Linked DNA regions of Homo sapiens: region 2 is linked to region 1. The links come from fine-mapping of genetic effects on gene expression. Tissue or cell type: subcutaneous fat. Region 1 holds a variant in brackets; the other region holds the start of a gene. All regions are shown on one strand. Distances are from middle to middle.

Evidence for each region. PIP is the estimated chance that this variant, and not a neighbour inherited with it, causes the effect.
Region 2: it holds the start of PHB2, and the variant in region 1 is fine-mapped to the expression of PHB2 in subcutaneous fat (FUSION, PIP 0.94).

Annotation. Positions count from the first base shown.
Region 1 is chr12:6,403,115-6,411,374 of GRCh38, reverse strand. It overlaps the pseudogene RPL31P10. Among named protein-coding and RNA genes, the nearest start is that of LTBR, 23 kb to the right of the region's middle. The variant A/TAAATAAAA (reference allele first, on the strand shown) is at 3,615.
Region 2 is chr12:6,966,111-6,974,110 of GRCh38, reverse strand. It overlaps PHB2 (prohibitin 2), which reads left to right and starts at 3,447. Exons shown (of 10, transcript NM_001144831.2): 1 at 3,447-3,694; 2 at 3,831-3,915; 3 at 4,534-4,613; 4 at 5,516-5,700; 5 at 6,090-6,219; 6 at 6,332-6,435; 7 at 6,863-6,940; 8 at 7,611-7,687. The coding sequence starts at 3,568. It overlaps EMG1 (EMG1 N1-specific pseudouridine methyltransferase), which reads right to left and starts at 3,198. Exons shown (of 6, transcript NM_006331.8): 1 at 3,020-3,198. The coding sequence starts at 3,187. It also overlaps SCARNA12. RefSeq lists enhancers at 2,891-3,010, 3,061-3,240, 3,331-3,400, 2,921-3,523, 6,548-7,048.

The DNA of each region.
Region 1 (8,260 bases):
CCAGCTACTTAGGAGGCTGAGGCAGGAGAATCGCTTCAACCCATCACGCAGAGGTTGTAGTGAGCCAACATCGCACCACTGCACTTCAGCCTGGGGGACAGAGTGAGACTCTGTCTCAAAAAAACAGAAAACACAAAACTTATGGGCAGAGGGCATTGGTGGAAACCCACTGAAATTAGGGGAAGGGAACAGGGGAAAAAAGAAGAAGTTCTTCCTTTTAGTGAGGACCGGAATAATTGCCAGGCCAACCATTATACCTGGAGGAAGGGCAATTATGAAGGCCACACTCCCAAGATCCAGGTTCATAGTGCCTACCTAAGGCTGAGCCTCAATCATAACACAAGGGAACACATAACCTCCTTCATAGCCTACCACCACATGACAGGCCTCCAGTGAAAAATAATACAAGAATGTATCTGGGAGAACTTGCAAGAGACAGACTTTATTTAGGGAACAGTGCAAAAGGAAGATACAAATCCAAGAGACAAAAACAAGGCACCACTAGAGGAATTTTAAGCCCCTGATGCACTGAGGATAATAATATATGTTGGTGCAAAAGCAAACTTCAAACCCAGCCCTCCTGACTACATTAATGGAAATCTCTATACTAGAGAAGTAGCAGAAAGAAATGAATGCTTATCTTCAAGAATACAAAATATTTATGTCAGTATCTGTTGTGTTATACAGCATATCCAGCTTTCAATGAAAACCACAAGGTATACAAAAAGGAAAGAAAAAACACAATCTGGACTGGGCATGGTGGCTCACACCTGTAGTCTCAGTACTTAGGGAGGCCAAGGCAGGCGGATGACGAGGTCAGGAGTTCAAGATCAGCCTGGCCAGTATGGTGAAACCCCTCTCTACAAATACAAAAATTAGCTAGGCATGGTAGCGCATGCCTGTCAACCCAGCTACTGGGGAGGCTGAGGCAGGAGAATTGCTTGAACCCAGGAAGCAGAGGTTGCAATGAACAGAGATCATGCCACTGCACTCCAACCTGGGTGACAGAGCAATACTCCGTTTCAAAAAAAAGAAAAAGACACAATCTAAAAAGACAAAAAAAAAAAATCAGAACCAGACTCAGATATGACATCAGACATGGAATTTAAAGTAACATGATTATGTTAAAGGATTTAATGGAAAAGGTAGACAACATGCCAAAAGAAGATGGATAAATTCAGCAGAGGAAACCATAAGAATAAAATGGAAATGCTTGAAATAAAATCGTGGTGACAGAAATGAAGAACACCTTTGACTGGTTCATCAGTAGACTCAGTATAGCTGAGAAAAGAATCAGTGACCTTGGGTGTAGAGGTCAATAGAAATTTCCCAAACTCCCTTTCCAACTTGGACATGGCAGAATGGCTCCCACAAAGAAGGGTGGCGAGAAGAAAAAGGGCCGTTCTGCCATCAACGAAGTGGTGACCCGAGAATACACCATCAACATTCACAAGCGCATTTGTGGAGTAGGCTTCAAGAAGCGTGCCCCTCGGGCACTCAAAGAGATTCGGAAATTTGCCATGAAGGAGATGGAAACTCCAGATGTGCGCATTGATACCAGGCTCAACAAAGCTGTCTGGGCCAAAGGAATAAGGAATGTCCGACACCGAATCCATGTGCGGCTGTCCAGAAAACGTAATGAGGATGAAGATTCACAAATAAGCTCTATACTTTGGTTACCTATGTATTTGCTACCACTTTCAAAAATCTACAGACAGTCAATGTGGATGAGAACTAATCGCTGATAGTCAAATACATCAAATAAAGTTATAAAATTGCAAAAAAATAAAGAGGAATTACCCAAACTGAAGTGCAAAAAAAGAGTGGGTAAAAAACAAAACAGAACAACAACAAAAAAGAAAGAAAGAAGACACCATCCAAGAATACCAAATGAGTTAACATGCCCATAATTGGAATTCCAGAAGGAGAAGAAAGACTTGGACAGGATTTGTCTAATCAGACTTAGTTAAACAAACAAACAAACGAACAAAAAGAATAAGACAGGAGAAACATTTGAAGAGATAATGGCTTAGAATTATCCAAAATTAGTAACAGACAGAAAAGCACAGATCAAGGAAGCTCAGAGAACACCAAGCAGGATAAATACCAAAACAACACAGCCCCTCACCAAACCCATGCATCTAGGCATATCATATTAAAACTGCTGAAAACCAAAGAGAAAGAAAATCTGGAAGTCAGCCAAGGGGGAAAAAACATAATATCTTACCGAGGAGCGAGGATAAGAATTACAGCAGACTGCTAGTCAGAAACAATAAAAGCAAAATGAAATGGAGTAATATCTTTTTTTTTTTTTTTTTTGAGATGGAGTCTCGCTCCATCACTCAGGCTGGAGTGCAGTGGCATGATCTTGGCTCACTGCAACCTCCGCCTCCCGGGTTCAAGTGATTCTCCTGCCTCAGCTAGGTGCCTGCCATCATACCCAGCTAATTTTTGTATTTTTAGTAGAGACGGGTTTTCGCCATGTTGGCCAGGCTAGTCTCAAACTCCTGACTTCAGGTGATCCACCAACCTTGGCCTCCCAAAGTGCTAGGATTACAGGCGTGAGCCACTGTGCCTGGCCCAAATTAAGAGTTTTCTATTTTTATTTTTATTTTTTTAGAGACGGGGTCTCACTACGTTTCCCAGGATGGTCTGAAACTCCTGGACTCCAGTGATCCTCCCACCTCAGCCTCCCAAAATGCTGGGATTACAAGCATTAGCAACTACACCAGGCCAAAATTAAAAGTTTATCAGACAAACAGAAACTGAGGAAGTTGATTGCCAGCAGACCTACTTTATAATAAATGTCAAAGCAAGTTCTCTAAGAAGAAGAGGCTGGGTGTGGTGGCTCACGCCTGTAATCCCAGCACTTTGGGGGGCCAAGGCGGGTGATCACTTGAGGTCAGGAGTTTGAGACCAGCCTGGCCAACATGGTGAAACCCTGTCTCTACTAAAAACACAAAAATTATCTGGGCGTGGTGGTGGGCGCCTGTAGTCCCAGCTACTCAAGTGGCTGAGGCAGGAGAATTGCTTGAACCCGGGAGGCGGAGGTCGCAGGGAGCCGAGATTGTGTCAGCCTGGGTTGAACAGAGTGAAACTTCGTCTCAAAAAAGAAAGAAGAAGAAGAAATATAATCAAAATCTTGGATCTATACAAAGAAACAACGTACTGTAGTTTATAGAATACCATTTACAATAGCAGCCCCCATGAAGTTTTTAGGTATAAATATAACAAAATACGTGGGAGATATGTGTGCTAAAAACTACAAAATACTGACGAAAGAAATCAACATGGGGCCGGGCATGGTGGCTCCTGCCTGTAATCCCAGCACTTTGGGAGGCCGAGGCGGGCGGATCACTTGCGGTCAGGAGTTCAAGACCAGTCTGGCCAACATGGTGAAACCCCGTCTCTACTAAAAATACAAAAATTAGCCCAGTGTGTTGGCACACGCCTGTAATCCCAGCTACTTGGGAGGCTGAAGCAAGAGAATTGCTTGACCCCAGGAGGCGGAGGAGGCGGTGAGCCAAGACTGCACCACTGCACTCCAGCCTGGGCGATGGAGATTCCGTCTCAAGAAATAAATAAATAAATAAATAAATAAATAAATAAATAAA[A/TAAATAAAA]GAGAAAGAAAGAAAAGAAAAACTGAATGCTACAAGTTCAGCCCATTACTAACCAGTTCCAGACAAATTGGCTTTTTTCTTTTTTCTTCTTATTTTCCTCTGGCTTTTCCCCTCATTTTAAAAATGGAGAGGTAATCGTGCCTCTCATGAGCGAATAGTTTTAGTATGCTTAGAACACTGTCCTGTACATAGTAAGCATTCAACATATGTTGGCTAATACTACTGAAGCCAATTGTAACAGTAGTATTAGAAGCCGTAATAATATTACCCCAGTCAAATATGTCCATAATTGGCAATAGGGAAAGAATTGCTGCCACTCAGCAGTATTTGGAGTATTGAATGTCATTGTTTACTTTTTCTGGAAGGAGCGTGACCTAAGACACTGATCTAAACTGAATGTGCATGGCTAATGGTGTGGATAGACAGAGATTTTAAGTGGGCAAAAGTGAAGGTTGTGTTGACAAGAAGTTTCAGGAAACAGTGATGTGGATGAATTTCCCAGAACGGTCCCAGAATATGAGAATAATGTCCCACGTGAATGCTAATCGAAATTCCCACTCTTCAGAGGAGGCTATCAGCAATCAGGTACACATCAACCATATGGCTGTCATGTAGTCTCTTCGTATCACCCCACTTACTGCCCAAGTGATTTATTTGTAAACAATGTGGCCAGCGTGGTGGCTCACGCCTATAATGCCAGCACTTTGGGAGGCCGAGGTGGGTGGATCATCTGAGGTCAGGAGTTTGAGACCAGCCTGGCCAACATGGTGAAACCCCATCTCTACTAAGAATACAAATATTAGCCGGGCCTGGTGGCGGGTGACTGCAATCCCAGCTACTCGGGAGGCTGAGGCAGGAGAATCACTTGAACCTGGGAGGTGGAGGTTGTAGTGAGCTGAGATCACGCCATTGCACTCCAGCCTGGGTGACGGAGTGAGACTCTATCTCAAAAAAAAAAAAAAAAAATGTGACTAGGGTGGCAGGCAGTGGTAGAGGTTATACTTGAGCTCTATAGTATAGACTTAGCTCACCAAGGCTGACCTCTGGATGCTGATGCTGCTAAGTGTCCCATATGTCAGGGGAAGTATTCTTGTATTCTTGCAAGTATTTTGTCATGGATGGGGCAGGGATTTGTCTTCACTGAGATAAACACTTACTCTAGATTTGGATATGCTTCACTTACATGCTATTGCTAGCAGGACCATCAATGAACTTACTGAACACTTCATACCTCATATCTCACAACGTCTTTTTGGACCCATTTCTATAAGTTATACAAAAAGGGTAAGGTAATGCATGGATGACCATGGGACTCAGTAGTTCTAATGTGTACCACATTCCTTATAAGTAGAAATCTCAATTTTTGGAAGCCTCAGTTAAAGTGGCATGTAGTCATTTTGCACCCTCTTGGAGTACTGTTCAATTTTCGACATTGTATATGTGCTTAATAGTGACTAAGAATAGGCATAATTTCTTCTGTAGCCAAAATGCATTGGTTAAAGAAAGGAGAGGTAGGAGTGGAGTGGTGCCTCTCCTATTACACTTAACAGCCAACTCGAGAAAGTTATGCTTTTCATGTTTGCAACTCAGGGCTCTCTGCTGCCTTGAGTTGTTTTAGAACTCCTTGTTTTAGAAAAGGAGGAGTACATGCTGCCACCAGTCGTCACGGAGATGCCTCTGTTTATCGATTTACTAAAAAGGATTTATTTTTGTATGACGTTTAAAGCAGTTTAAATTACATTCATTTGCTGACTTAGAGAACTGTGGGAAGTCTTGACTTATGGGAGTTGGGCTTTTGGACTTCTCCTCTGTTTGCCAGTTTTCTTTTTGTTTCTGTCTCCCCTTTTCTTTCCCCCGTCTGTCTTGGGCTATCTCTTTTTAGGCGCATAGGCAAGGAGCTGTGACCGACAATTTGAATGTTTTTAAAAATACTCTCATAAAAAACACACCTTTGGCCGGGCGCGGTGGCTCACGCCTGTAATCCCAGCACTTTGGCAGGCTGAGGCAGGCGGATCACAGGAGGTCAGGAGTTTGAGACCAGCCTGGCCAACATGGTGAAACCCGGTCTTTACTAAAAATACAAAAATTAGCAGGGCGTGGTGGAGCGCGCCTGTAGTCCCAGCTACTCGGGAGGCTGGGGCAGGAGAATTGCTTGAATCTGGGAGGTGGAGGATGCAGTGAGCCGAGATTGCGCCATTGCACTCCAGCCTGGGAGACAGAGTGAGACTCTGTCTCAAAAAAAAAGAAAACAAAACATTTTTTTCTGCAATACTTTTCAAAGAATGGTTTAAAAGCAATGACAATCCATGATCAGTGAGAATTTTCACTCAGATTATGGTCTCTCAATTCCTTTTTCAAAGAGCAGACAGGCTACTTGGAGACTTGGGTAAATTTATGGATTATAATAGATTTAAGAGGAACAGCCATCAGATGCCATATTTGGAGCTGGTGGGACCTCATTCAGACAAAATCAGTATAAAAAATATTTCAGACAATTCAGGATTTCCTTTCTTTAAGGGCTAGGTATTGGATAATGTTATAAGTCATTTTTAAAATTTTCTTAGGTGTGAAATCTTAGTGTATTTTCTCTATATTCATATCTGTTAGGATGTTTGTGAAAATATTCATGATTAAAATCACATTTTTGAGATTTCATGTTTGGGATATTTTTTAGACTCCCTCATCCACCATTGTGGGTGCAGATAATGAAACAAAATGGCAAGTTGTTGGTAATTTTTGAAGCACGTGTGACGAGCCCTGGGAAGTGCAGTATTCTCTATATTTTTGTGTCTACTTCAGTATGTCCATGACCACTCCCTTTCCCCTCCAAAAAAAAGTTAAAATTTAAAAAAAGCTGGCTAAATTAAAAAAAAGAAAAGAAAAAGGAAATCAACAAAGATATAAATAAATGATTAGGTGTAGGCTGGGTGGGGGCTGGGTGTGGGCTGGGTGTGGGCTGGGTGCACCTGTAATCCCAGTGCTTTGGGAGGTTGAGGCAGGGGGATCACTTGAGGCCAGAAGTTCGAGACCAGCTTGGACGACACAGAAAGACGCAGTCTCTACACAAAATAAAAAATTACTCAGGCATGGTGGCATGTGCCTGTACTCTCGGCTACTTAGGAGACTGAGGTGGGAAGATCACTTGAGCACAGGAGTTCAAGGTTGCAGTGAGCTATGATTGCACCACTGCACTCTAGCCTGCACTCTAGTCTGGGTGACAGAGTGATACCTCGCCTCAAAAAAAAAAAAAAAAAGGTATAAATAAATAGAAAGATATACTGTATTCATAGATTAGAAAATTCAATATTGTAAATATGTTAATTCTCCCCAGTTTGATCTATAGATTCAATGCATTATCAATCAAAATCATAGGAAGCTTTTTTTTGATAGAAATTGACAAACTGATTCTAAAATTTATATGAAAAGGGAAAGAAATGAAAAGGAACTAAAAAAATAGTAGGAGAAATTACTCTACCACTTATTAGACTTATTAGAAAGCAATTAGTGTGGTATTAGCGAAAGAGTAGACAACTTAGGTGAATAGAGCCAATAGAGAGACCAGAAATAAACCCACACAAATAATGTCAACTGATTTTTGACAAAGATGCAAAGGCAATCCAGTGGTGAAAGAACAGTCTTTTCAACAAACAGTGCTGGAAAAATTAGACATTCATATGTAAAAACAAAACCAAAAAACCTCAACACGTACCTCACACTTACACCAAAAAATGGCTCATAAACTTAAATGTAGAAAGTAAGACATCTAGAAAAAAGCACAGGAGACCCTGTGTGTGTGTAACCTTAGGTTTGGTGATAAGTTTTCTGGTACTGGAAACACAATTCATAAAGAAAAAAATGATGAATTGTACCTTATCACAAATAAAAACTTTTGTTCTGTGAAAGATAGGTTGAGAAAATGAATAGACAATCCACAGCCTGGGAGAAAATATTTGCAAATAATGTATCTGATAAAGGACTTCTATCCAGAATAAATAATTCTTCTTTTTCTTTCTTTCTTTCTTTCTTTTTTTTTTTTTTTGAGACAGAATCTCACTCTGTCACCCAAGCTGGAGTGCAGTGGCGTGATCTTGGCTTACGGCAACCTCTGCCTCCCGTGTTCAAGCGATTCTCCTGCCTCAGCCTCCTGAGTAGCTGGGATTATTACAGGCACGTGCCACCACACCTGGCTAATTTTTGTATTTTGCGTTTTTTTTTTTTTTTTTGAGATGGAGTTTTGCTCTTGTTGCCAAGGCTGGATTGCAATGGCACGATCTCGGCTCACCACAACATGTGCCTCCCCGGTTAAAGTGATTCTCCTGCCTCAGCCTCCCGAGTAGCTGGGATTACAAGCATGCTCCACCATGCCCGGTTAATTTTGTATTTTTAGTAGAGACGGGCTTTCTCCATGTTGGTCAGGCTGGTCTTGAACTCCTGACCTCAGATGATCCGCCCACCTCGGCCTCCCAAAGTGCTGGGATTACAGGCGTGAGCCACCATGCCCGGCCTAATGTTTGTATTTTTAGTAGAGATGGGGTTTCGCCATGTTGGTCACACTGGTCTCGAACTCCTGACCTCAAGCGATTCAGCCGCCTAGGGCTTCCAAAGTGCTGAGATTATAGGCGTGAGCCACTGCACACTGCCGAATG
Region 2 (8,000 bases), 560 kb before region 1:
CTGAGAGGGAAACAGGAGGAAGGGCACAACCTGTGACTTCACATTATCTACTAATACACTGGATTTAATTAAAAAACCTGTGGCTGTTAGGCAAGGCCAATGAGACATCCTGGAACTAGGCAGGAGTTAGTAGTTAGCAAGGCTGAATGCTGTGTTTATTACAGGAGCAGTAAGTAGGTACTGTGCAAAATATCGAGTCACCACCCTCAGTTTGCGTACACCAAACATGCACTAAGTGAAGAGCTGCAAATCTGAACAAGAAATGTGAAGGCCGGGCGTGGTGGCTCACGCCTGTAATCCCAGCACTTTGGGAGGCCGAGGCGGGCAGATCACAAGGTCAGGAGATTGAGACCATCGTGGCTAACACGGTGAAACCCCATCTCTACTAAAAATATAAAAAATTAGCCGGGCATGGTGGCAGGCGCCTGTAGTCCCAGCTACTTGGGAGGCAGAGGCAGGAGAATGGCATGAACCCAGGAGGCGGAGCTTGCAGCGCCACTGCACTCCAGCCCGGGCAACAGAGCGAGACTCCATCTCAAAAAAAAGAAATGTGAAAACTAATGATGCAGGAGGCAGTTTAATCAAAGAAAACTCTCAGAAGTAAAAGGAAGAGGGGTTATTCCCAGTTTTAAGACGGGCATGGGGGCAGATGCAGTGGCTCACGGCTGTAATCCCAGCACTCTGGGAGGCCAAGGCAGGCAAATCACTTAAGGTCAGGAGTTCAAGACCAGCCTGGGCAACATGGCGAAACCCCATCTCTACTAAAAATACAAAAATTAGCTGGGCATGGTGGCACATGCCTGTAGTCCTAGCTACTTGGGAGGCTAAGGTGGGAGGATGGCTTGAGCCCAGGAGACAGAGATTGCAGTGAGCCAAGACTGTACCACTGCACTCCAGCAAGACCCTGTCTCAAAAAAAAGAAAAAAGAAAGACTGGCATGAGCAAAGGTACAGATGGAATCAAGACAAAGTAGCCAGGTGTGGTGGCTTATGCCTGTGATCCCAACACTTTAGGAGGCCGAGGTGGAAGGATCACTTGAGCCCAGGAATTTGAGACCGGCCTGGGCAACACGGTGGGACCCTGTCTCACAAAAAAAAAAAAAAAAATTAGCCAGGCGCAGTGCCATTTGCTGGCAGTCCCAGTTACTCAGGAGGATGAGGTGGGAGGACTGCTTGAGCCAGGGAAGTAGAGGCTGCAGTGAACCATCACACCACTGCACTCTGTTGCCCAGGCAACAGAGCAAGACCCTATCTCAAAAAAGAAACAAAAAAGAAAAAGTGGAAACGAAGAAAGGAAATTTTGAGGAAAATTGGGAGCTGAGACACTAAAGGGCAGTGATTATATATGAAGCTGCTTTGTAAACCACAGAATCCTAATGTATCAAGCACAAAGCCAAAAATAATTCTGGAGTAAGCAGGGCAGGATGGGAATGACTGACAGACACTATCCTAACAACTCTCTGTACACTGGAAAAGACATCAGAAGTTTGATGTTAAAGAAGTGGACTACATCTGTAGCAGCTAAAAGAAATAATTCCAAGTTGCAATTTGGAGTCCCAAGGAGCATTAGGGTGGTCAGTAAAAAGTCTAAAAACAAACTGTTATATACAAATACAAGTTTTGGAAGGTTAAGTTTTTATGTATCACTGGAATGTATATGTCTAGCAACATTCTTGAGATATATGGCTCCAAAAAGTCTGCGAAAAAAGGGATGTAGATTTTGAAATTGAATAGTTGAAGTAATGTCACAGAGAGCACAAAGAACAAATGACCAAGAACTAAGTCCATGAGACACCCTTAGTTATAGAAGAAAAAAACCTTCTTGAATGAATAATACAGTTTCAACCCATTAGTAGGATATAATCATGTTTTCTATTCTTTTAATAGATTACAGGCGCAGGCCTGTAATCCCAGCTACTCTGGAGGCTGAGGCAGGAGAATCGATTGAACCCGGGAGGCGGAGGCTGCAGTGAGCCAAGATCGTGCCACTGCACTCCAGCCTGGTAGAGACTGAGACTCCATCTCAAAAAAAAAAAAAAAAAAAAGTGTATTTAGAACGAAGATTAAAATCCTGGCCTGACTTCTAAACCAATGCGATTTCTTCTGGGCCTATTCAATTAGTTCTAACGGGTAAGAGAAAGGAGGAGGAAGAACACTGCCCAAGGCTTTAAGATAGAGAACTGCTGGTTCTATTACATGTGGGGAAAGAGATGAATGATAGATAAAAATGCAGATGTAAAAGTTTTAAATAATAACCAGGTCTGGACAGTGTATCATAGGTGGATATTAGAGAGAGGTGACTATGGATACTAATGAATTGAAACACGAAGCCCTTACAAAAAGTGTGGGCAGACTAGGCTACATAACTACGTTTCTCATCTGCCCAGTAACTTGTCTTGGGATGTGGAATGACGCAAGGAACGAAACTTTCCTCTGCTTAGACTACTATACCACAGAATCCTGGTAAACCAATTGGAAGCAAGGAGGTGAGGGCTAGAATATCATTCAAAAAGAGCAAAAGAAAATGAGTACTACCGGCCGGGCACAGTGGCTCACGCCTCTAATCCCAACACTTTGGGAGGCCGAGGCGGGCGGATCACTTGAGGTCAGGAGTTCGAGACCAGCGTGGCCAACATGGTGAAACCCCATCTGAACTAAAAATACAAAAAAATTAGCCGGGCGTGGTGGCACCTGCCTGTAGTCCCAGCTACTCCAGAGGCTGAGTCAGGAGAACTGTTTGAAGGCGGGAGGCAGAAGTTGCAGTGAGCCGAGGTCGCGCAACTGCACTCCAGCCTGGGCGACAGAGCGAGACTCCGTCTCAAAAAAAAAAAAAAAAAGAAAGAAAAATGAGTACTACCATCCCAGGATGTCAAATCAACGCAAAGCCAACCAAGCCACCTTCCTTCAAAAGCATCTTTCACCCCTCTCTGCTTTCTACATCCACTCTGGGCCCCTTACCCTCATTCCACGGAGTCCCAACCTATCGATTTACTACTTCTCCACTTCCTGTCCCAAACTACCTTGACTGTCTCCAGACTGGCCCCTTCCAGCACCACAATAAGCCTACGGCCTCCGATCTTGTTTCCTGCCCCTAGTCGGGGCCGCTTGGGTGGCAGAGCATCCCAGTCCTGTGCCTGCTCCCCACCGCTTCGTTCACGAGGCTTGAATCCATCACTGGGCGCGGCCATCTTGCAACAATACCGGAAGTTGCGCTAACGCTCTTAAATAAGAACAGCGCGGCTTCTAATCACAAATTTCCTTCCGGCTGCCATTTTGAAAGTGGGCCAGGAAATGGAGATGACTTGCTGTCTTGCGCTGCCCTCCCTGGGAGGGCAGCCTTCCAGAAAGGGGCGGGACTTCCGTATGCGCGATTCCTGTGCGCGAAGTTCGGGTCCGTAGTGGGCTAAGGGGGAGGGTTTCAAAGGGAGCGCACTTCCGCTGCCCTTTCTTTCGCCAGCCTTACGGGCCCGAACCCTCGTGTGAAGGGTGCAGTACCTAAGCCGGAGCGGGGTAGAGGCGGGCCGGCACCCCCTTCTGACCTCCAGTGCCGCCGGCCTCAAGATCAGACATGGCCCAGAACTTGAAGGACTTGGCGGGACGGCTGCCCGCCGGGCCCCGGGGCATGGGCACGGCCCTGAAGCTGTTGCTGGGGGCCGGCGCCGTGGCCTACGGTGTGCGCGAATCTGTGTTCACCGGTGAGCAACCTCCGCCTGCTCGCCGGACGCTTCCAGTCCCTCCCCCAAACCCCTTGCCCTGTCCCCGCGCCCCTCCACGGGCCTAGCATTTCCTCTGAGCAGCGGCCTGGCCTGATCACCACCCATCTCCCCACAGTGGAAGGCGGGCACAGAGCCATCTTCTTCAATCGGATCGGTGGAGTGCAGCAGGACACTATCCTGGCCGAGGGCCTTCACTTCAGGTAATGGCGGGCAGAGCCTGCTGACCCTGACCTTTCACCCTTGACGCCGACCCAGCAGTGGCTATAGTCGGACGTGCAACAGGATTCAACGCTGCTCTTTTCCCACCCTCCTCATCCCTGCCCCTAGGATAGTGGGTGCTGCGAGAACCTCCAGCAGCATACAAACTGTTGTTTTCCAGAGGGACAAGAGAATCTCTCCTTGTCTGTGGTCGTGGAGAGGAGCAGGCCAAAAAACGCGTGGTGAGGGGAAACCGGGCAAGGCTAGTGAAACTGCGGCCTTTTCTTTTTTTTTTTTTGGAGAGGGAGTCTTGCTCTGTCGCCCAGGCTGGAGTGCAGTGGCGCGATCTCGGCTCACTGCAACCTCCGCCTCCTGATTTCAAGCGATTCTCCTGCCTCAGCCTCACGAGTAGCTGGGATTACAGGCGCCCGCCACCACGCCCGGCTAATTTTTGTATTTTAGTAGAGACGGGGTTTCACTATGTAGATCAAGCTGGTCTCGAACTCCTGACCTCAAATGATCCGCCCGCCTCGGCCTCCCAAAGTGCTGGGATTACAGGCGTGAGCCACCGCGCCCGGCCGAAACTGTGGCCTCTTAATACCTATCCCTGTCCTCTCCAGGATCCCTTGGTTCCAGTACCCCATTATCTATGACATTCGGGCCAGACCTCGAAAAATCTCCTCCCCTACAGGCTCCAAAGGTAGGTCTGAGCACTTGGTAATCACATGGCAGGTGGGATGATCAAGGTAGCTGGCAAGAAACCCCAGGGGAATATGGTAGTGTCAGGCCTTTAGGCCTCTTTCCACATCTGCAAGAGCTGTAACAAAAATACCTGCCTCCTGGGGTCAAAGCAGCAAATTCTGAACACACTGTGTTTGCGTGCTTTTTACTGTCTCCTCCCTGACGTGTATTCAATAAGAGTATTGTTTGTCCCTCGTCTTGTTCACTGCCTAGATCAAAGCTTTGTTTTAAAGCCTTTTTTTTCTAACTGCTTGACTTACTATATCTACAGTTACATCCACTAGTACACTCTGTTCTGGAGAAGTTTGTCCCTAAGCTTGACTAGTTCACCTGTTCTCTCCTTCTAGACCATACATAAAAGCCGTGCCTTTGAGTTCCCCAGACCTCTTCCTCCTCCCCACCCACGCACACATATACACCCTGGGTCAGGTAGCTCACCTGTAACCTGTAATGTACTTCTTTGTGCTATACCTAGTGCAGGTCGCTTATTCATTTACTAGACTGGGCCCTGGGAATAAAAGATTCATTAAACACAATTCTTGTCCCCCAAGTCCTTACAGGAGACATGATTACGGTACAGCACGAAAGCGCCCACGTTAGAGGTTGCACAGAGTACAGAGGGGGAAAGAGTAGTCAGCTCTGCTGGTGACGGGGTTTGCAGTTCAAGGCTTCACAGTGGGTGAGGGTGCATTTCAGCTGTGCTGCGTCTTGTCTTCCTTGTCAGCCTGATTAACTCTCCTCCCCCCAGGGTAGTGCCAGGCTGTACACCATTGCACAGGGCATACAGGGAGGAACATGAAGGAGAAAATGCTTGGGAAAGGGTGTTTGGCCTTGACCAGCCACTGCTGACCTCAATCTCAGACCTACAGATGGTGAATATCTCCCTGCGAGTGTTGTCTCGACCCAATGCTCAGGAGCTTCCTAGCATGTACCAGCGCCTAGGGCTGGACTACGAGGAACGAGTGTTGCCGTCCATTGTCAACGAGGTGCTCAAGAGTGTGGTGGCCAAGTTCAATGCCTCACAGCTGATCACCCAGCGGGCCCAGGTCTGACTCCCACCACCATCTGCGTGGTGTCAGCCTTTCCTTCCTAGGCCCAGAGTATTGGGAATTAGGAAAGGCAGCTTATTAGAAAAGCATTGTCACCCTAGTGCCATTTCCACCTAAAAGCTGTGCTAATTGCCACTGTGAAATAAGGAGAGCCAGCATTAGAACTCGATAGCACTCGGTGTTAGGAAGCACAGAGGAAAATGGCCAAGTCTTGGCTTTTCCTGCACCTCTTCGAGCAGAGAGGCTTATGTTACAGGTTTGCCTGACAGGAAGCTAAGGCAGTGCATGTTGTATTGAGAGTGAAGGGTTAGGGGTCGCAACCTTCCTTTCAGCTCCCCAGTCCCCTCAAACCACCCCTCCCTTCCCCTCTTCACCCCTGCCCTCAGGTATCCCTGTTGATCCGCCGGGAGCTGACAGAGAGGGCCAAGGACTTCAGCCTCATCCTGGATGATGTGGCCATCACAGAGCTGAGCTTTAGCCGAGAGTACACAGCTGCTGTAGAAGCCAAACAAGTGGGTGAGTCGCAAGAGCCGTGGGGTGAGGGCTTCTGAGATGCAGGAGGAGGAAAGACTCCATGGGTGGGGCTCCTGACCCAGGACAGGGTCTCCCTGACTCTCTCCCACCACAGCCCAGCAGGAGGCCCAGCGGGCCCAATTCTTGGTAGAAAAAGCAAAGCAGGAACAGCGGCAGAAAATTGTGCAGGCCGAGGGTGAGGCCGAGGCTGCCAAGATGATATCCTTCTGCTGGAGAGATCTCAGCCCAGCCCCTAGGGCACCTGAGTTCCCCATTCTCCTTCATGGGCAGGCTGATGAGACTAAGGCGAATGCGACTCCGTGCTCTCTGGCCCTTGGCTCCTTGTTGGGGGTGGGGACTACAGATGAGATCTGAAATCTTAGTGGTAGTACCTGAGCCATGACTCCCCACTGTAAGGCCAGATCAATAGCATTGGTGGCCTTGCCTTCATTTCTGGTGCTGCCCCTAGTTCCTGGCAGCAGCCTGCAGGGAGGCCCACAGGTGGGGTCCACGGTAGGGCTGGGCACAAGCCACCTGAGCGCAACCTTGGATCTGACAGCCCAGAGGAGGACTGGAGCAAGGGAGTGTGGTAAGGACAGGGCCAGGGATTGAGACCTGCCCTTGCGTGTACCTTAACCCTCCTCACCTTGGAGAAGCACTGAGCAAGAACCCTGGCTACATCAAACTTCGCAAGATTCGAGCAGCCCAGAATATCTCCAAGACGGTGAGTGTGTCAGCCCAGCGTCTCTGATGGGGCTGCCTTGAGAAAGTGCTTTCAGTTAAGGCACATTGAGGTGAGGGAATTCGAACCTTGCTTGTTCCGGTTTCTACTCAGATTGGCTTCTCTGGCCGGCGCGGTGGCTCACGCATGTAATCCCCGCACTTTGGGAGGCCAAGGTGGGTGGATCACCTGAGGTCAGGAGTTCGAGACCAGCCTGGCCAACATGGTGAAACCCCATCTCTACTAAAAATACAAAAGATAATGAGCCCGCTGTGGTGGCGTTTAGCTATATTCCCAGCTACGCAGGAGGCTGAGGCAGGAGAATCACTTGAACCCAGGAGGCGGAAGTTGCAGTGAGCTGAGATCATGCCACTGCACTCCAGCCTGAGCAACAGAGCAAGACTCCGTCTCAAAAATAAATAAATAAAAAATTGGCTTCTCCGATACTCCTCCTGTCAAGAATGATTCCTCTGGGTTCCCTGACCTTTTGTTCTAATCATAGCTGCTGCTCAGCGCTCTGGATCCCTAAGTGCGAGCAGAAACCATGTGTTACTCATTGCTGCACCCCTGCCCTAATCTGCATGTGTTCCATGTTAAGTAGCTGCTGAATTGCAGGGGTCGGAATTGAGGTCTTTGCTTAATGCAAGCATCTGTCTTATTTCCTGCCCTGTAGATCGCCACATCACAGAATCGTATCTATCTCACAGCTGACAACCTTGTGCTGAACCTACAGGATGAAAGTTTCACCAGGTGAGAGATGTGGCCACACTGTGGGGTATCACCAAGAACGTGGGACCTGAGTCTGGTTGTTTGGGCTCTGGAGCCTGCTACAGCTATTCATATGGCTCAGAGACATTGAACCAAAATTAGAAAAGGGGGTGGTTGACAGTTTCTATCTTGCATCTCATAGGATTGATTTTATGAGATCAAATAGGATTATTCACATAAAAAGCACTTTAATTATAAAGTTTTCATCTAACCAAAAAGTGATGAAAGATGATACTCAGTTTTCTTACTCAAGAGCCCTCAAACTCCTCTGGTGAATGGAGGGATGTTAGGAAAG